Linked DNA regions of Homo sapiens. The protein of the gene in region 1 purifies or fractionates together with the protein of each later gene. This does not show direct contact. Each region holds a gene or a part of one and is shown in the gene's direction. Other genes may lie near its edges.

The links. The genes of interacting proteins can lie anywhere in the genome.
Region 2: the proteins of ANGPT4 (region 1) and IFFO1 purify together in Homo sapiens (affinity purification with mass spectrometry; one large-scale study listed by BioGRID and IntAct). This does not show direct contact.
Region 3: the proteins of ANGPT4 (region 1) and ZC4H2 purify together in Homo sapiens (affinity purification with mass spectrometry; one large-scale study listed by BioGRID and IntAct). This does not show direct contact.
Region 4: the proteins of ANGPT4 (region 1) and CCDC136 purify together in Homo sapiens (affinity purification with mass spectrometry; one large-scale study listed by BioGRID and IntAct). This does not show direct contact.

Annotation. Positions count from the first base shown.
Region 1 is NC_000020.11:912,856-918,345, reverse strand, and holds the start of ANGPT4 (angiopoietin-4 isoform 1 precursor), read left to right. Parts: upstream 1-2,011; 5' UTR 2,012-2,131; coding exon 2,132-2,440; intron 2,441-4,665; exon of another isoform or gene 4,666-4,907; intron 4,908-5,490. UniProt on the Homo sapiens protein: Binds to TEK/TIE2, modulating ANGPT1 signaling. Can induce tyrosine phosphorylation of TEK/TIE2. Promotes endothelial cell survival, migration and angiogenesis.
Region 2 is NC_000012.12:6,546,043-6,550,322, reverse strand, and holds part of IFFO1 (non-homologous end joining factor IFFO1), read left to right. Parts: intron 1-426; coding exon 427-567; intron 568-838; coding exon 839-847; intron 848-1,473; coding exon 1,474-1,655; intron 1,656-1,777; coding exon 1,778-1,898; coding exon of another isoform or gene 1,899-2,162; coding exon 2,163-2,258; intron 2,259-4,280. UniProt on the Homo sapiens protein: Nuclear matrix protein involved in the immobilization of broken DNA ends and the suppression of chromosome translocation during DNA double-strand breaks (DSBs).
Region 3 is NC_000023.11:64,966,451-64,970,730, reverse strand, and holds part of ZC4H2 (zinc finger C4H2 domain-containing protein), read left to right. Parts: intron 1-4,280. UniProt on the Homo sapiens protein: Plays a role in interneurons differentiation. Involved in neuronal development and in neuromuscular junction formation.
Region 4 is NC_000007.14:128,811,688-128,815,967, forward strand, and holds part of CCDC136 (coiled-coil domain-containing protein 136), read left to right. Parts: intron 1-112; coding exon 113-625; intron 626-1,020; coding exon 1,021-1,242; intron 1,243-2,950; coding exon 2,951-3,232; intron 3,233-3,926; coding exon 3,927-4,244; intron 4,245-4,280. UniProt on the Homo sapiens protein: May play a role in acrosome formation in spermatogenesis and in fertilization.

The DNA of each region.
Region 1 (5,490 bases):
AGGTCAGGAGCAGAGTGAGGGATGAGGGAAGCCTCATGTTTCCCAGGCAGGGCCTGCTACCTAATTTGTGGAACTCAATGAAGAATGCAAGTGCTGAGTACTTTGTTCCAAATGTATTAAGAATTTCAAGACAGTGCTGGCAGAGTGTAAACCAAGCATGGGGCCCATCTAAGCTTGGGGCCTGGTGTAACTGCCTCGTTGGGATTATCAAGCAGCTCAGTCAAGACAATCATAATGACGACCACCATTCACACTGCCCTTCTCTGCACCCAGAGCTGTGATAAGCTATCAGTCCACATTACTCTCACATGGTCAGGGTGCTATGACCCCATTTACAGCTGAGGCAACTGGGGCCAAGCGGGGCACGCAGAGCTCAGAGCATGTGGGAAGGCTCAGGGGAGGCTGGAGGCTGATAACCAGCTGCTTTTCCTTTGCCTGCAAAAGCCCCACACCTGGTATAATGTTCTCAGTCCCCAGATGAGACCACAGTTCACAGCTGCCCAGAAGCAGCCTGCCCCAATTCAAAACTCTATCGGGATTTGAGAGAACAAAAAGGAAAATACTAAACAGCCAGACTGGCCCCTACTCTGAGGAAACAAGCAGGGAGAGAGGAAAAGCCCAAACAGCTGGCAGAACATAAAGGCAGCCCATGCAGGAAAGGCCCCACCAACTCCTGGGCACCTTCTGCCTGGAGACCATGTCCCCCAGGGACAAATCCCTGCCCTAGAGGAGTTTATGCTCCAGTGGGTCGTGGGAGGGGAGGTGCAATGACAACTATAACATTGACAACGGAAAATATTTATTTAGTGCTCGCTCTGTGCCAACCTTGCTCTAACTCACCTAATTTTCATGCCATGTGAAGTAGGTGGTATTATTTTCCTCATTCAGGAGGAAATGAAGGCACAGAGAGGTTAAGTGACTTACTCAAAGTCATACAGCTGGTAGATGGTAGAGCCAGGATTTGAACCCAGAAGCTGAAAACTTCTCCATCCCCATGCTGAGGACTCACACGCATTCCTCCTGCAAGAGATAAGGTTTACCCAGTTTACAGATCAGGGTGTGGAGGCCCAGAGAGGCACAGCTGCCCACCCTAGGTCTCGTGGCCAGCTGTCGGGGAGCGAGATCTAGGGTTAGCCTCCTGGCACTCCAACCTCCTCTCCCCACTGCCTCCTCTCCACATCCCCACTCCAGCAGCCCCAGGACAATCTGCCCCAGGACATGACAACTTCTCATTACTGTTACAAGCAACCAAGCCAGGGCCATCCTGGGGCATACCACTTTCCCCTGGCCCTGAGGGAGAAGAGAGGACAGGAAGCAACTCCCAGCTGGGTTGCTCACTTGCCCCACCTTGGAAGGATTTTCTGTGTCTCCAGAGGCAAAGTGGATTCGCTGGGCCCTCCCCAGCCTCACCCCTCTGCCTCCTCCCCTCCCTCTGCTCTCTCCGGGGGTCACTTGTACTCCAAGCGCTAACATGGAACCAGAGGGAGGAAGGTGCAGCGGGGAGAGAAGGGGATGGCAGCGGGACTGAAACTTGAGATCTTAGACTTGGGGGGCAGGGGATGGGGGTGGAGGGAAAGAGGGAGACCAAGACAGAGACAGGAAGGGAGAGTTAAGTTGCATTTGGTTTTCCAAAGCGGGCAGCATTGGAGCTTGGCGTTTGTGTGTACATGAATGTGTGTGCGTGTCAGCGTGCGTGTGAGTGTGTGCTCGTGAGTGTGTGCATGAGTGTGTGCGCGTGTCTGTGTGCTGTTTTCTTCCCTCCCCTCCAGCAGGGAAGCCAGGCCTCACTGGATAATCAGAGGGCTCAGAGGTGAGGCAGACAGAGCAAGGTTGGTGCACGCTTAGGGTAAGGGCGACGTGCCACCAAGACTGAGGAAGGAGGAAGGGAAGGAGTGAAGAATAGAGGTGAGAGGGTGTCGGGTGGGGCCGGAGGGAGGCGGTGAGAGGAAGCAAGCAGAGCAGCCGTGGTATTCAGAGCAAGTATAAATAGCTGCCTGGACAGAGCTCGGCCAGACAGAGGTTTGTAGCTGCAGCTGCAGGCAAGCCTGGCCACTGTTGGCTGCAGCAGGACATCCCAGGCACAGCCCCTAGGGCTCTGAGCAGACATCCCTCGCCATTGACACATCTTCAGATGCTCTCCCAGCTAGCCATGCTGCAGGGCAGCCTCCTCCTTGTGGTTGCCACCATGTCTGTGGCTCAACAGACAAGGCAGGAGGCGGATAGGGGCTGCGAGACACTTGTAGTCCAGCACGGCCACTGTAGCTACACCTTCTTGCTGCCCAAGTCTGAGCCCTGCCCTCCGGGGCCTGAGGTCTCCAGGGACTCCAACACCCTCCAGAGAGAATCACTGGCCAACCCACTGCACCTGGGGAAGTTGCCCACCCAGCAGGTGAAACAGCTGGAGCAGGCACTGCAGAACAACACGCAGTGGCTGAAGAAGGTACGGGGCATGGGAGGTTTGCAGGGGGCAGAGGGCGGCTTTGGGGTCTGTCACAATCAGCAGGTGGAGTGTCCATCCAAGAGGCCTTCCCTGAGCACAGAGGGCTGTCTCTGAGCTGCACAAAGAGGGGCAGGGGTGGGTCTGAGGCCACACAGCAAGATTGGGCAATGTCAGCTGGCAACCTGGCTCTTTAACTGCCGTCCCTTCATTCATCCAACAGAAATCCATTCAGCCCTGACCAAGGGCTGAACGGACCAAGCCTTCCTGGGTGCTGGGGATACGACAGTATAGTATGTCTCCCTCTGGACTAGTAGGGGAAAGAGGCAGTAAGAGATAATCTACTATGTCAGATGGTGAAGCAAAATGAAGAAGAAAGAGGGCAAGTGGCGGCCCTGGGTGGCTGCTTGAGGTCAGATCATTAGAGAGTACTTCTCAGAGGAGGTGACATTTGAACCCAGAGAACAAGGGAAATGATAGAGTGGGCCAGGCAGGTATTTGAGGGAACGTTCTGCAAAGGGAGCTGCATGTATTTTGACCGTGAGGAGGGAATGCATCCGCAGCGGTGTGTGCCTGGAGAACCATGGGGCGAAGGCCTGTGTAGCTGGAGCAGAGGAGAGGGAGCAAGGGTGCGGGGAGGTCTGAGAGGTGACAGCAGGGCAGGCCATGCAGCTGGGGGGGGGGCCACTGGAAGGACTTCAGCTTTTGTTCTGAGTGTCATGGGAGCCACTGCAAGGTTGTGAGCAGAGACAGACACCCGTGATTCGATTTCAACAGCATAGACTGTAGGAGGCAGGGTGGAAGGAAGAAGCCCAAAGAGGTGGCCGCTGCAGCCATCAGGTGCAAGGTACCGGAGGCCTGGAGCAGAACGGGGCTAGGAGGGGGTGTGGCCAGTAAGATTCTGGTGGGTTCTGGAGGTAGAGCCCATCAGCTCTGCTGGTGAATTGGATGCGGAGTGGGAGGAAGCAAGGAGCTGAGGATGCCACTGTGGTTTTGGCCCAAGACCAGGGCTGCTGTAGAATGCCCTGTCATGCTTTCGTCTTTCAGCAGTGTGAGCACCTATTGTGTACCCTCGGAGAAGCACTGACTACAGAGGTGTGCAAAGCAGGCTTGGCCCTGGCGGGGCATGAGGGTACAGGAGACATCCTGGGGGGTCTGAGATGGGACTCTTCAGAGTCCCTAAGTGAGAGCTACCAAGGAAAGGGAGAGGGACCCAGGAGACAGTCTGGGCGATGACTGAGGAATGAAGGATGCGAACTAATTCCTGGAGTTTTAGAAGGTATTAAACAGCAGACAAGCTTGACAACCACCTCTGGCTCCAGGCAGGATAGCTGTCCTGGCTGCCCCCCTGGCTCCCTGCTAACACTCGGCCCCCACCTCCTGTTCTCCATGCAGCAGACCAAAGAATCCCCATCAAAACCTAAGTTACATCCTCTCCCTCCTCCCAGGGCTAACCATGCATCCGAATAAAAGCAAGAACCCTTACTCCCTGGAGTTCCCTCTCCCAGACTCCCACTTTGCTTACCCCAGCCTCCTATCCTCTCCAGCGCCATCTCCCCAGAGGCCCTCCTTGTCCTCCCCGTACGAAATAACCACCTTCCTCTTCCACCCTTTGTCCCTCTGCTGGCTTTGTTGTGTTTTTTTTTCTTAGAACTTATCCCTACCTAATGTTCTTAAAAACATTTCTTTTGGTGTGTGAGCTCCCAGAGGGCAGGCGCCATGTCTCTTTTGCTCACTTCTGGGTTCCCAGGGCCTAGAATAGTGCCGAACACACAGTAGGTACTCAATAAATGTCTGTAGCATGAGTGAATGCATGAATGCATAAATGTCCTTCCAATCTCTCAGGTCCCAGGTCTCCATCCTGCTCCGTGATGACACAAAATTGGCATTGATGGGATCCTGAGCCCAAAACCCATGACCTGGATCTCCCCCAACACCTCCCTGAGGGTCCATGGGTGTCTCAACTCCAAAGCTGCCTGAGACGACTCCCTGCTCTTCTCCAAACACCCTCCTCCTGCCTGTCTGTCTCTGTTTAGGGTGACACCACCACCCAGCCACAGGCTGTGCCCTGGGGGCTTCCTGTGGCTCCCACCTATCCCCCAGGCAGCTGGCCCAGCCCATCCTGTGGCCTAGGCTTCTCTCATGGTCCATCTTTCTGGCTTAGGCCTCGTCATCTTTCCCAGGATGCTGTCATCACCTCCCACTGGGCCTCCTACCCCAAGTCTCACCTCTCACTCTCATCCATCTTTGAATCCCCTGGGTGTCGGATGCTTGGGAAACATTGGCTGAGAGCTGATGGCTTGAACTGATGGCTTGCAGGATCAGAAGGTCACCTGGTCCAGTGCCTCAGCTTGGGGTGGAATGTCCTCTCCAGGCATCCATTCACCTAGCCTGAAAATTCTGAGCTAGGGTCAGTCAGGTCACCGTAGAGTGCCGTAGGGCCTAAGATCTCTGATATGGGAGTTCAGCTGACCTGGCTGCAGGTACTTCCTTACCAAATGGCTACAGATGAGCAGGTTTCGGTCTCCCTTGGTTCATGTAAACAATAATTTCTCTCTGCCCCCTCTGACACTCCTGGTCCCCAGTGGGGAGTGCTTGCTACCTTCTGTGGCTGTGGCTGTGACCTTCCTCTGGTTCTTCTCTTGGTCCAGGCATATCTCAGATCTTCTGAAACTCAAAGCCTTTTTTTGGCTTTTTCTCTAACATCTCAGAAAAGTTAAAAAAAGAGTTTTAAAATACTCATCTAATGGCACCATCAGCATCATCATCACCATCATCACCATTGCCATTAGGGATGAACAAGCTCTCAGCAAGATTCTGTTCATCTAGACAGACACAGGGGAGATCCTTCCTGTCGCGAATCCCAGAAGCCATCATCTGCTCAGCCTGTGCCCCCAACTCCCCTCCTGTTCCCCCAGTGTACAGGTGAGGAAACAGGCCAGAGAGGGAAAGTGACTTGCCAGAGCCATGTAGCAGTGAAAGCCAATCTGGATTCTCACTACAAACTGCAGGTACTTTTTCCTGACTCTGGAAGGTGTCAAGGAGGCAAGGGA
Region 2 (4,280 bases), on another chromosome or scaffold:
ACTCGGGACAGTGCCCAGCATGCAGTGTTAGCTGGAAGAGTGTTAGCTGTTGCGATTATTATAGTCCTTTCTCCACTCTTATAATTCCCAGGAGTCTCTTTCTCTCTGGGAATGTAAGTTCTAGGAGGATGAGGACCGCTAGTCGTTCCAGTGAGCCCCCTGCATGTCCCAGGCACTGGCCATGCCCTCCAGGGCTTCCGTTTGGCCAGGGAGCAGTGGCCCGAGCCGCCCCATGCCCAGCATATTCACACAGTGCTGTGGGGAGGCCACCGCTACCCAGGAAGAGGGGTGCAGTCAGCTCAGGGAGACTCCACAGAAGAGGCACCGGTGCAATGTGGTGGGAAGGATGAGGACCTTGCCAGGCCTAATTCGTCCTTGTCTGGAGAACTGGGCGCCTCCTCACTGTTCCCTGGGCTCCCTGGACAGAACCTGTCGGAGCTGGACACCAAGATCCAGGAGAAAGCCATGAAGGTGGATATGGACATCTGCCGCCGCATCGACATCACCGCCAAGCTCTGCGATGTGGCTCAGCAGCGCAACTGCGAGGACATGATCCAGATGTTCCAGGTGAGGACGGAGCTGCCCTCTGCTCTCAGGGGTGGGTGGGGCAGGTGGATGCTTCCGTGGCGGCTGGCCTGGAACGCAGGCCCTGCCTCCTGCTTGGGGAGCCTTACCTGGCAACTGGGGCCCTCACGGGGCTAGACTGGGGGGTAAGGAGCAGCATCAGGAGGGGCATCGTGGAAGCTGTCTCTAACGCCGTCTCTCCCTTCCCCCTCTCTCTCCTCTGTCTGCTTCCTCTCCTCTCTTCCTCTCATCTTCTCTCTTGCTTCCTCCACAGAAGAAGCTGGTTAGTTTGATCTCACGCAAGCTTATTAATGTCCCAGTCCCAGTTTCTAAGCTGCCTAGGCCTCCTGGCCCTCAGTTTGGGCCCGCTGGGCTCTTGAGCACGGATTTTTTTCTGCCCTTTCCCTTTTCCTTGCTCTTCCCCCTTTTTCTCTCTATCTCTTGTTCTCTTGACTGCATTTCTTTCTCTCCCTTCTCCCCCGGCTTTCCAGATCTGGATGTGATTCAGGTTCTCTTTTGTACACATTGCACACTCATCCTCCTTGCGTCCTAAAGCTTTTTTTTTTTTAGTTGAGTCATTTAATCAAAAAGACTTTTTTTAGAAAAAAATTTCCTCTTGAGCCATCATGCACATCTGACTGCAGCCCCAGCGAGCCCTTCCTTCCTTGTCTGACTGCTCTTCTTCTCGATTTCTTCTTGTTCTGCCTTCTCGGTTTGCAGCCCTGACCCCCGCTGTGTGTCTGGCCCTTGGTGACTGTCCGTGTTTCTGTTCCTGTCATTGTAACTGTGACTTTTCTCTCTGTCTGCCCCCCCTTCCTACTGGTTCATGCTTCTCCCCCATTCCCACCCTCTCTGCCCGGCCTCCCGCTCCCGCCCTTTCTCCTCATGCACCCGGCCTCGTCTCTGTAGTCTCTGCACTTGTCTCCCATTAAGGTCCCATCCATGGGGGGGCGGAAGCGGGAGCGCAAGGCTGCCGTCGAGGAGGACACCTCCCTGTCGGAGAGTGAGGGGCCCCGCCAGCCCGATGGGGATGAGGAGGAGAGCACAGCCCTCAGCATCAACGAGGAGATGCAGCGCATGCTCAACCAGCTGTGAGTCCGCAGGCCGTGCTCCCGCAGCACCGACGCCACAGCAGCCCAGGAGGCCGGAGCTCCCCAGTCCCCCGCCAGGACGAGGCCCCGCCCGCCCTGACACCCGGGTTCCCTGTCTCTAGGAGGGAGTATGATTTTGAGGACGACTGTGACAGCCTGACTTGGGAGGAGACTGAGGAGACCCTGCTGCTTTGGGAGGATTTCTCAGGCTATGCCATGGCAGCTGCAGAGGCCCAGGGAGAGGTAACCTCTGCTCCCGGCCTCAGGGCCCTCTGGCTCTGCCTCTCCAGCCTGAAGCCCACTCCCCCGCTCCTCTCCTTGCTCTGTCCCCCCATGTGGCTGTCATCCTCTACCTGCGTCTCCCCTCTTCCTTTATCCTTTTGCTTTTCTTTCTCCAGTTTCTTTAACCAGACTTCCTCTCTCTCTCTCTCCCTGACTTGGCCCTTTGGAATGCGTCCCATCCCATCCCTCCTTGGCTGGCCTCCCCCGCTTCCCTTTCTACTCCAGCAGCAGGAAGATAGCCTGGAGAAGGTGATTAAAGATACGGAGTCCCTGTTCAAAACCCGGGAGAAGGAGTATCAGGAGACCATTGACCAGATAGAGGTAAGGGCAGGAGCGGAAGCCAGGGGCGTGGTGTCCCAGAGGGTTTTGAGTGGGGCTGCAGGCGCAGTGGCCTCATCCCTGCTGCAGGACCCTAGAGACCAAGGTCTTGGGAGGAGGAGTGATCTCTCAGCTATAGTCCTCCTGGTGGGCTCTGAAGACCTCAGGCTCTGGAAACAGACAGATATCGGTTCAAATCTCAGCTCTGTTACTTACAACCACCCTGAACTTGTAATAAGTTACTTGTTCCCTCTGAGCCCCTCCTTTCCTTTCCTTTCCTTTCCTTTCTTTCCTTCCTTCCTTCCTTCCTTTCTCTCTCTCTCTCTCTTCCCCTCCCCCTCTATCCCTCCCTCCCTCTCTCCCTTGTCTTTCTGTCCTTTCTTTTTTGAGACAAGGTCTCACTCTGTTTCACTCTGTTGCCTAGGCTGGAGTGATCCTCCCACCCCAGCCTTCTGAGTAGCTGGGCCCACAGGTGTGTGCCACCATACCCAGCTAATTTTTATTTGTATTTTTTTGTAGAGATGGTGTCTCCCTGTGTTTCCCAGGCAGGTCTTAAACTCTTGGGCTTAAGTGATCCTCCTGCCTCGGCCTCCCAAAGTACTAGAATTAGAGACATGAGCCATGTGTCCAGCCCTACACCTGTTTCTTTTTCTTTCTTTCTTTCTTTCTTTCTTTTTTTGAGACAGGGTCTTGCTCTGTCACTCCAGGCCCACTGCAGCCGTGATCTTCTGGATCCAAGCAATCCTCCTACCTCAGCCTCCCAAGTAGCTGGGACCACAGGCGTGTGCTACCACGCCCGGCTAATTTTTTGATTTTTTTTACAGAGAACAGGGTGTCACTATGTTTTCCAGGCTGCCCTCAAACTTCTGGATTCAAGCAGTCCTCCTAACTCGGCCCCACAAAGTGTTGGGATTACAGGCATGAGCCACTGTGCCGGGCCTTTTTATTTGTAAAATGAGGAATTTAATAATACCTCACCTATAGGGTTGTTTAGAAGATCAGATGAAATAATGCATATATAGAGCTTAGGGCAGTGTCTGGCTCATAGCGAGTGTAGCATAGTGGGGACTGTTTTATTATTATTAACACTATCAGTGCCATGGCACTCAGAGATGGACTGGGACTTTCCTGTTTCTTCCACTCAGCCTTTGAGATAACAGAGAAATCTCCATGCTTTTTCCCAAGCCTTGAAGTACCTTCTAGAGGTACCTAGAGGCAAGTGGAGCTGGTGCTTTAGCTCAAACTCTAGGCTTTAGGAGCTGCAAGAAGGATTTGTGGAGGCCGGGCGCGGTGGCTCACGCCTGTAATCCCAGCACTTTGGGAGGCCGAGGCGGGAAGATCACGAGGTCAGGAGATCGAGACCATCCTGGCTAACACGGTGAAACCCCGTCTCTACGAAAAATACAAAAAAAAAAAATTAGCTGGCCGTGGTGGCAGGCACCTGTAGTCCCAGCTACTCGGGAGGCTGAGGCAGGAGAATGGCGTGAACCCGGGAGGCGGAGCTTGCAGTGAGCCGAGATCGCACCACTGCACTCCAGCCTGGGCGACAGAGCAAGACTCCGTCTCAAAAATACAAACAAAGGAAGAAGGATTTGTGGAACCACAGAATGGAGGTTGCTGTTGCTGTGGGAGGAGGGATGGACGGGACCCCCGTGAGCTCTCCTGGCCTGGTGAGGTGGTCCTTTCCCGACGCTCTGACTTTGGGAGAGGCATGGAGCCTTCTCTGCGTCTCAGCCTCTCTTCAGGCCCACATGGGAGATTCATACGTAGTCCCCCCTTATCTTCAGGGCATGTGTTCCAAGACCCACAGTGGATGCCTGAAACCAAAGATAGCACTGACCTCCTGATAGCTTGGGTCCAGTTGCTGTCAACTGGAACGTGTTTCTGTTCATGTCTCCCACCCACACATTCAATGCCTTTTCTATCTTAACTAAGCACTTAGCGTGCGCTGTGGCGGTACCTTTTGCAGTTCGAGGTGTGACAGCAAAACTGGCACAAATTTCTTTTTCCTTCTTTACAATTTCA
Region 3 (4,280 bases), on another chromosome or scaffold:
GCATCTAAATCCTACTCATTTTTCAAGGAAGACCCATATGAAATGCCTCGTCTTCTCCAAAACCTTCTCGAGTTCCCCAGTCAAAATGAATTACAATACCCCAACCACAGACTCCACAGGGAGATTTATTATAGCACTCAAGTTATCCCATCTAATGATGGAATTTTGAATTGATATCCTCCCTTCCTTCCTCCCTTCCTTCCTTCCTTCCCCCCTCCCTCCCTCCCTCCCTTCCTCTCTTCCTCTCTTCCTCCCTTCTTCCTTTCCTTCCGCCATTGGTGTGGCAGTCTTGGTAAGCTCCTCTGTTACCTGGCTTGGGGATTGACTCAGAACCAGTGCTTACTCAAGACCAAGGCACAGGACAACTGGAACCTCTGGGACTTGTGGATGGGCAAATTAAGCCAAACAATGCTGGCCACAGGAGAGACTGAAAAGGTGTTGGCATTTGGTATTGAGATGTAAGAAAGTTATCAGAATGAACTGTTATAAGAAATCTACTTTGCTGACAGTAGCTTTGTTTCCAGTTGAGCAAATAAATATTACATGGAAGAATGCTTAGTACTTAGGCAATATTCTCACCAGACTGGAGTAAGCAGGAAAAACTAGCTCCTTTGTGTTCATTCAGTGACATTTACTGAGCATAAATCTGGGCCATAATCAGGGCTGGGCTATCCTTTGGTGGCCCATCACTTAGGATAAATAAGACCCATCAGAAGGATCTTCTAATCAAAGTCAATAGCTCTGATCTCTCCCTTGAGTTCCAGACTCACATATCTAACTGCCCATTTAACTTACACCCTTGCATGTATCACTGGCATCTCAAACAGGCCCTCAACTCCAGCCCCACCCCTAAACATTTTTATTTCCCAGTCTTCCCCATCTCAGTAAATGCCTCACTATGCTGAAATCTGGAAGCCATTCTTTATTCCTCTTTTTATGTGACCCTCTCCATCCACACCATTAGCATAGTGGTTATTATACTTGACCATGCAGGAGGTTACACCTAAAGGGCTTTTAAATCATTGATTGCTGAGCCCCATTTCCAGGGTCTCTGATTCAGTAGATATGGAGTGGGGCCTGAGAATTTACATTTCTAACAAGTTCCCAGGCAATGCTGCTGCTGGTGGTGCAGGGACTACATGTGGAGAACAACTGCATTAGTAAGACCTGGCCAGTTATACCTATACAATATAATCTGGAATTGTCCACTTCTCATCATCCCCTCAACTTATTAACAAATACCAGCACTTTTCCATCAATCTCCAGTAAACAGTATCTTTTCACCTAATTTTCCCATCTTCAAGGCCTACAGGTCCCAGCTGTCCTACCCTGCTTTTTGAGTGTGCATTGGGGCTGAGTCACCTCTGAAACTGGGTGACAGATGAGCCTGCCAAGTTTGTCCCAGCAATGGATGATCCATGGCCCTAGAACTTCTCCTTCTTTGCACCTGTCCTCTTCCATATTTGCCAGAAAGAAATCATTGAAAAGAAGGTATCCAGCTGAATGTTTTATAGTCTTGGCTCAGGAGACTGTCTGGAGAACCTGTGGCCTAGCAGTCTGCTATGATTTGAATGTACCCCAAATTTCATGTGTTGAAACATAATCCTACCATTTTGATGGTATTAAGAGGAGAGACCTTTCGGGAAGTAATTAAGTCATGAAGCCTCTGCCATTATGAATGGATTAGTGCCTTAGAAAATGACTTGGAATGAGTTTAGACCCTTTTTTGTACTTCTGTGATTCCACCATATGAAGACACAACATTCACTCCCTCTTGAAAATGCAGCAACAAGGTGCCATCTTGGAAGGAGAGACCAAGCCCCTCACCAGACACCAAATCTGTTGGCACATTGATCTTAAACTTCCTAGCCTTCGGACCTGGGAGAAATAAATTTTTGTTCTTTACAAATTACCCAGTCTGTGGTATTGTGTTATAGAAGCACAAACAGACTAGGACAGGAGCTCAGGAATACTGGTCCAAAAGTTACCTAAGACTGTCATCCTGGTGACTGTAGAAACCCTAAAGTACCCTGAAAACCCTGTGGTTTCCCTGTGGTTCACGAGTCATACTAGCTGTGCTTTAGCCTCTTGGAAAAATCTCATTAGGAAATTTTATATATAAAATTGCATCTTTAATGATCTGGATGGCTTCCTCACTTGTAGGGCCAAACATTCCACAGATTTCATCTCATTGAAGCATCCAACAATTCCATGCAAGGCTACACTGAGTCCTACTTTCCAGGTAGAATTTCCAAGGTGCCAAGAGATTCCATGAAGTGCACTATTTCACCCTGAAAATTGATGACTGAGCCAGGACAAGAATTCACCCTACTGGCCTGGTTTTTATGGCTTTAAATCCATCATATGATGAAAGTTCCTTGTTGTGATGGAAAGGTGATCAGATTTACAACGCTGGATTTTCCACTTCCTGAATTTGTCTTCTTGGGCAAGTCACTTTACTTCTCTCAGCCTCAAATTCTTCATGTGTGAAAATAAAGTGAAACATACCTGCCGATATGGTTCTTATGAAGATTAAATTTTGATAGCATAAAAAGTGCCTAATACAGTTGCTGGAACATAGTAGGCACCACAAATATAATAGCTATTGTTATTAAATAAAGCCTTTCTTAACAGACGGTTGCTTTCAGTTCCTGTCACTTAGATAGATTCTTAATAAATATGAACCAAATGAATGAAATCCTTGCCACCCATGGTAATGTCTTTTCTTCTCTGAGGCTACTGATGCTATAATCACTCCCCTGGATTTACTACCTACCATTCAGTAGTTTCTCATTCCAAATGTAATGATTGAGCCCCGCTTATGGCCAAAGCAGAATGATAGGTGTTGTGGAGGTTAAAGAGAGAAATATGGCATAGTGCCACTGTCTAGAAAGCCCTCGTGTATATAATTACTCTGATTTCAAGTTGCTTCATGCATAAATCTGTACTTTTTAGAGGACCCAGAGGACCATGACTATGTGCCTTGTGCTAGTCCCTTTCCCATCCTGGACCTTTATTTATTCACCTCTGAAATAAAGAGGATAGATTTCATGGGTGACTTTGAAATAATGTTCTGACGAGCCCAGGGAATTCTAAGGAGGGTTTTAAAGGGCCACTGTGATAGAGTCAGGTGGTGGTTGAATTTGAGGACAGATTAATGACTCTGGGGGTCCCACTTCCACTTTAACCATAACAGTTATGATTTGTTCCATTTTCTATATTGGATCTCAATCAGTTATTTTATTTGAAGGAAGGGATCTTATCATTCATCCACAAGAACCAGCGCACTTCTGGATAAATGGTGCTTGCTTAATACAATTTTTAAGTCTGCTTGATTGATGGAAGTTTGTAAAGAGGGAATTTGGTATTGTGAGTACATCTAAGCAGTGACTGGCATGACACTCTTTGTAGATTAGAGAGAGGAAGGGCCTTTTATTTAGATTTAATCTTAGCTCAAACTTCTCAATTGCTGGACAGAGAATGGAAGGCTGGGAATTAGATGCAAATCCTGAAGACCATAGTAAAGGCAATCTACCTCAAATGCAACAAATTATTTATTTATTTATTTATTATTAAGCCATTAAGCTCCTTCTCATTTCTCCTGGCTGCCTTAATCAGCAAACTTTAAAAAAATCCATTCCCTCTACGTAAGCCTTTTGACAAGTCATTTATTTTTCTGGGAAAACATGAGCATGCTTAGAAGTTATGTTTAGTGGGAGTTGTAGGTTTAGATTTAATTCTGGGTGCAGTAAGAGGTCATTACAGGATAATTTGAGTTATATTTTATATACCATAGGAAACATCCATTTCAAGTGTACAATTCAGCATGTTTTAATAAATTTAAAGAGTTGTACAATCATCACCATAATATTTTAGAAAATTTCCATCATTCCAAAATTAGCTCTTTGTTCAGTTTCAGTTGATCTTTGTTCTTATCCACAGCCCCAGGAAACCTGTAATATATTTTCTGTCTAAATAGAGTGGCTTTTTCTTGATGCTGCATATAAATAGTTATACAAATGTGGCCTTTTGGGTCTGCCTTCAGTCACTTAGCTTATTGTTTTTGAGATTCATTCACATTGTAACATGTAACAGTATTTCATTCCTTTTTGTTGACAAATAATATCCCATTGCATGGATATCGCACATTTTGGGTGTTCACTCACAAGTTGAGGAGCATTTCAGTTATTTCCACTGTTTTGGCTCTTATGAATAATGCTGCTCTGCACATTTGTGTACAAGTCTTTTTGTGGAAAAATGTTTCCATTTCTACTGCTTAG
Region 4 (4,280 bases), on another chromosome or scaffold:
GTAGGTGTGCCATTCTCTAAGGTGTGCTCTCAGACATCTGTACCAGGAGAGGTGCAGCTGGAAGGACTGAAGTGTCAGAGTAATGATACTGTCTCCCCACCCCTGCCCCCAGCAATCCAAGCTGCTCATGGAGCAGATGCAGGCCCTGCAGGTGATGTATGACGCCGGTCAGGCGAAGCAGGAGCTCTTGCAGCAAGAGCAAGGGAGGCTCCTAGAGGAGCGGAAGAGGCTGCAGGCAGACTTGCAGCTCTGCCTGGAAGAAATGCAGCTGCTTCAAGTCCAGTCCCCTTCTATAAAAATGAGCCTTGAGTCCTACGGGAAGAGCTATGGTAGCATGGTCCCCAGCAATGAGAACTGTCGCAAGACTTATGATACCACTGTGGATGACAATGAGAGCTATTACAAGAGTTACACCAGCACCCAGACCAGCAGCAAGAGCTTTCTCAAGAGCTATGACAGCAGCACCAGTGCCAGTGAGGCCTATGGGAAGAGTTACTGCACTACCAGCAACAGCAGCATTACCTATAAGAAGAGTTACGGCAGCACCAGTAGCTCTGACACCTGCCAGAAGAGTTTTGTCAGCAGCTGCACTGACGAGGAACCTGCTGAGCCTGAAGACATGGAGGTAATGGTTGCCAGGTGACAGGTCAGGCAGGGGACGATGGACTCTTGTCTTTTTAAGAGATACATCGCCAGGGGAAGGGGCAAGAAGTGTGGGAATGGGGTCAGAACTGACCTGGGGAACTATTGGAAGTAAGCGAAGCCCTCTACCCATGGCAGCCTGGTCTCCCGCTCAGCCCTCTCATAGAGAGAATCCCCCATCTGGACAGAGGCCCATAAGATTCAGTCCGTTTCCTCACCACAGCCACGATGCTCTTTATGGGGGTAAATATAGTAATCCCCCGCGGGCATCTCTGGATCCTGGTGGCCATTGTTTGGTATCCAGGGAAGGGCCCAGCAGAGTAGGGCGGAGCTTAGGTGCTCCTCAGGGTGCTATTGTTGCTCCCCCACCCCCCGCAGCGCTTTGAGGAAATGGTTGTGAAAGTGCTGATCAAGCTGCAGGCGGTGCAGGCCATGTACCAGATAAGCCAGGAGGAACACAGCCAGCTGCAAGAGCAGATGGAAAAGTTACTGGCCAAGCAGAAAGACCTGAAGGAAGAGCTGGATGCCTGTGAAAGGGAGTTCAAGGAGTGCATGGAATGCCTTGAAAAGCCCATGGCCCCCCAGAACGACAAGAATGAGGTAACCACTGTCAGGGAGGCAGGGTTTCCTCTGGCAGCCCCTGGAGCCATAGAGGTCATGGCCACTTCATAGAGGCTAAAGAGAGGGACAAAGCAGGGAGAATATGCACCTCAGAGGCTGGGCAGTCTGCTCCATCCCTGATGACATTTCCCAAGTGCCCGTGGAGCTGGGGTTTACTAGTCATCAGGACTTCTCTCATCGAATGATTTCTCTCTTTCTCCCTTTGCCACTTCTGTTCTCTTTTGCTTTGTGTTCTAGACCACTTCTGTAGAACTGTATTTTTGCATTTGCCAATCTTCTTTCATCATTTTGTGTGCATTTGCCTTGTCTCCCGGTGCACCAACTAGGAGCACCAACTAGATTGCAAGCAGCTCAAGGACAGGGACATGTCTCCTTTTGGATCGCTCACAATGCCAAGAAGAGTGCTCTGCACCCCCTAGGAATGGGACAGAAGTCTTGTCTCTGGCCAGGGGTTCACGGTCCAGTGGGGGTCTCTTTGTATACACACGGGAGAGATTCAGAGAGCAGCGAACACATGGGTCCAGATTGGCTAGTATTGGTACCTACTGAGGGGATGGTTGTGTGCTGCCATCAGCCAAGGAAGACAAAACCCGAGATCAGGGAGCAGGATGTGACTTGCCTCTGTTTCCAGGGTGAGGTGCAGGAGCCCAGTACACACTTCAGGAGTGTACAACACAGTTCTTTAAGTAATTGTTCCTGTTAGAGAGATGGGTTGGATGAAGTAGGAGTTCCCATAAAAAGAATTCTAGGCCAGGTGCGGTGGCTCACCCCTGTAATCTCAGCACTTTGGGAGGCCGAGGCGGGTGGATCACTTGAGGTCAGGAGTTTGAGACCAGCCTGGCCAACTTGGAGAAACCCCATCTCTACTAAAAATACACAAAATTAGCTGGGCATGGTGGCGCATGCCTGTAATGCCAGCTACTCAAGAGGCTGAGGCAGGAAAACCGCTTGAATCCAGGAGGCGGAGGTTGCGGTGAGCCAAGATCATGCCATTGCACTCCAGCCTGGGCAACAAGAGTGAAACTCTTGTCTCAAAAAAAAGAATTATATAATAAATCCCTGAGGTTCAGAATTGGTAGCAGCCCTATTGTTATTCCCCAGTCACAGTAGAAAACACCATTTAAATCATTGTTTTGACCTTCTTTTTTTTTTTTGAGACAGAGTCTTGCTCTGTCACCAGGCTGGAGTGCAGTGGCACGATCTCAGCTTCCTGCAACCTCCGCCTCCTGGGTTCAAGTGATTCTCCTGTTTCAGCTTCCCAAGTTTCTGGGACTACAGGCGCGCTCCAATAAGCCCAGCGAATGTTTGTATTTTTAGTAGACATGGGGTTTCACCATGTTGGCCAGGCTGGTCTCGAACTCCTGACCTCAAGTGATCTGCCCACCTCAGCCTCTTGAAGTGCTGGGATTACACTGGATGGCAAGTGAGCCGCTGCGCCCTGCCGTTTTTTTCATCTTATTAGATGGACATCATCAGGTGCCTCAAGTTAGGAGAAGCTATTTGTAAAACTATTTGAGAGGCTCATTTTCCACCGTTGAATATTTTCTTTATTGTCTACTTCCTATGGGCTTTAACAGGGAGATTTCTGAGACAGTGACCCCCAAGCAGGGCTGAGTTTGGTTGCGTGGTCAGCCAACTGGTTGCATAACCAGCCAACTCTGGGTAACTGGCCCTCCACTACCAACAGATCAAAGAACTGCAGACCAAGCTGCGGGAGCTGCAGCTGCAATACCAGGCTAGCATGGATGAGCAGGGGCGGCTTCTGGTAGTGCAGGAGCAGCTGGAGGGGCAGCTGCAGTGCTGCCAGGAGGAGCTCCGCCAGCTCAGGGAGAAGAGGCCTTCTGTTGTCAAAGAAGCCCGGGGGAAGAATGCTAATAAGAACATGAACAAGAATGCCAATGGGGTTAAAATGAAAAAGGTGACCAAGCCATGCTCGGATACTTCTGAGAGCGACCTTGAGACCAGAAAGGTGAGTAGTAACCTTGGTAGCCAGATAAGCAGAAAGGAGGAGGAGATCCTGGGAAGAAGCATTGCCTCCACAACCCTTTCAACCAGGCAAGGGATTTGTAGAGAAGCTTCTGGGATCTCTGAAGTGTCTACAGTGGTTCCCATCTTAATGGAAAGTGGGTGCTCCCTTTTCCTGTGAAGTTATGGGGAGAGTGGAACACAGACAACTCACATCGGGAGGTGCAGCCCCAAAGGACCACAGCCCCTAGGCTGGACAACTCCTTCAGTTTGCCCAGCCCCATTTGTTGGGGCTCCTGTTCTTCCTGGGTTACATGCCCAAGAGAAGAACCAAATAGATGAAGAGGGAGGAATTTGTTCAAAGTAGTTATGTACTAATAAGTGAAAGAGGATTGGGTAAAAGAAGAGTCACTGTAGGGGTGGGAAGCAACAATTTAGGTGCAGAGCCCAAGACTCTTTAGTTGTGGTAGCTGTTTGAAATGGCTTAATGGCCAACAGACATAGTGGCCCTGAGAGGTGAGGTGTGATGCCCTCTACATATGCTCAGGGGATTGGCTCACAGTCCCAGAGCACCGGGCCACACCCTTGCACTCTGACATGCTGGAAGTCATGTTTCCTGGAGCTAGTACAGCATTGTCATGAGATTAGGAGCTTCACAGGTAACGCAGCCGCCATCCTGCCCTACTCCCACCCCACAGAGTCTGGAGGTAGTGCTGTACTACAAGGCCAGCCAGAGGAAATTAGATGGACTAGCAAAAGAGGAGGAAAAGAAAGAGGAGATGGAGGAGGAAAAAAAGCAAGTGAAAGAGGAAGCAAAGGAGCAGTGTGGGGATGAGCTAGTTGCTGAGCCAGCAGATCCTGAGGAAGCTAAATCCACAGAAGATCAGGAGGAAAATGAAGAGGACAAAGAGGAAGAGGAGAAGGAAGAAGACAGTGAAGAGGAGGAGGATGACGCCGACTCTTCCCTTGAAAGTCCCGAAGAAAATAACCCCCTCAGACTTTCCGAGAGCAAAAAGGTAACCAGAGCCAAAGCCTAGATCAAGTGGGAAGTG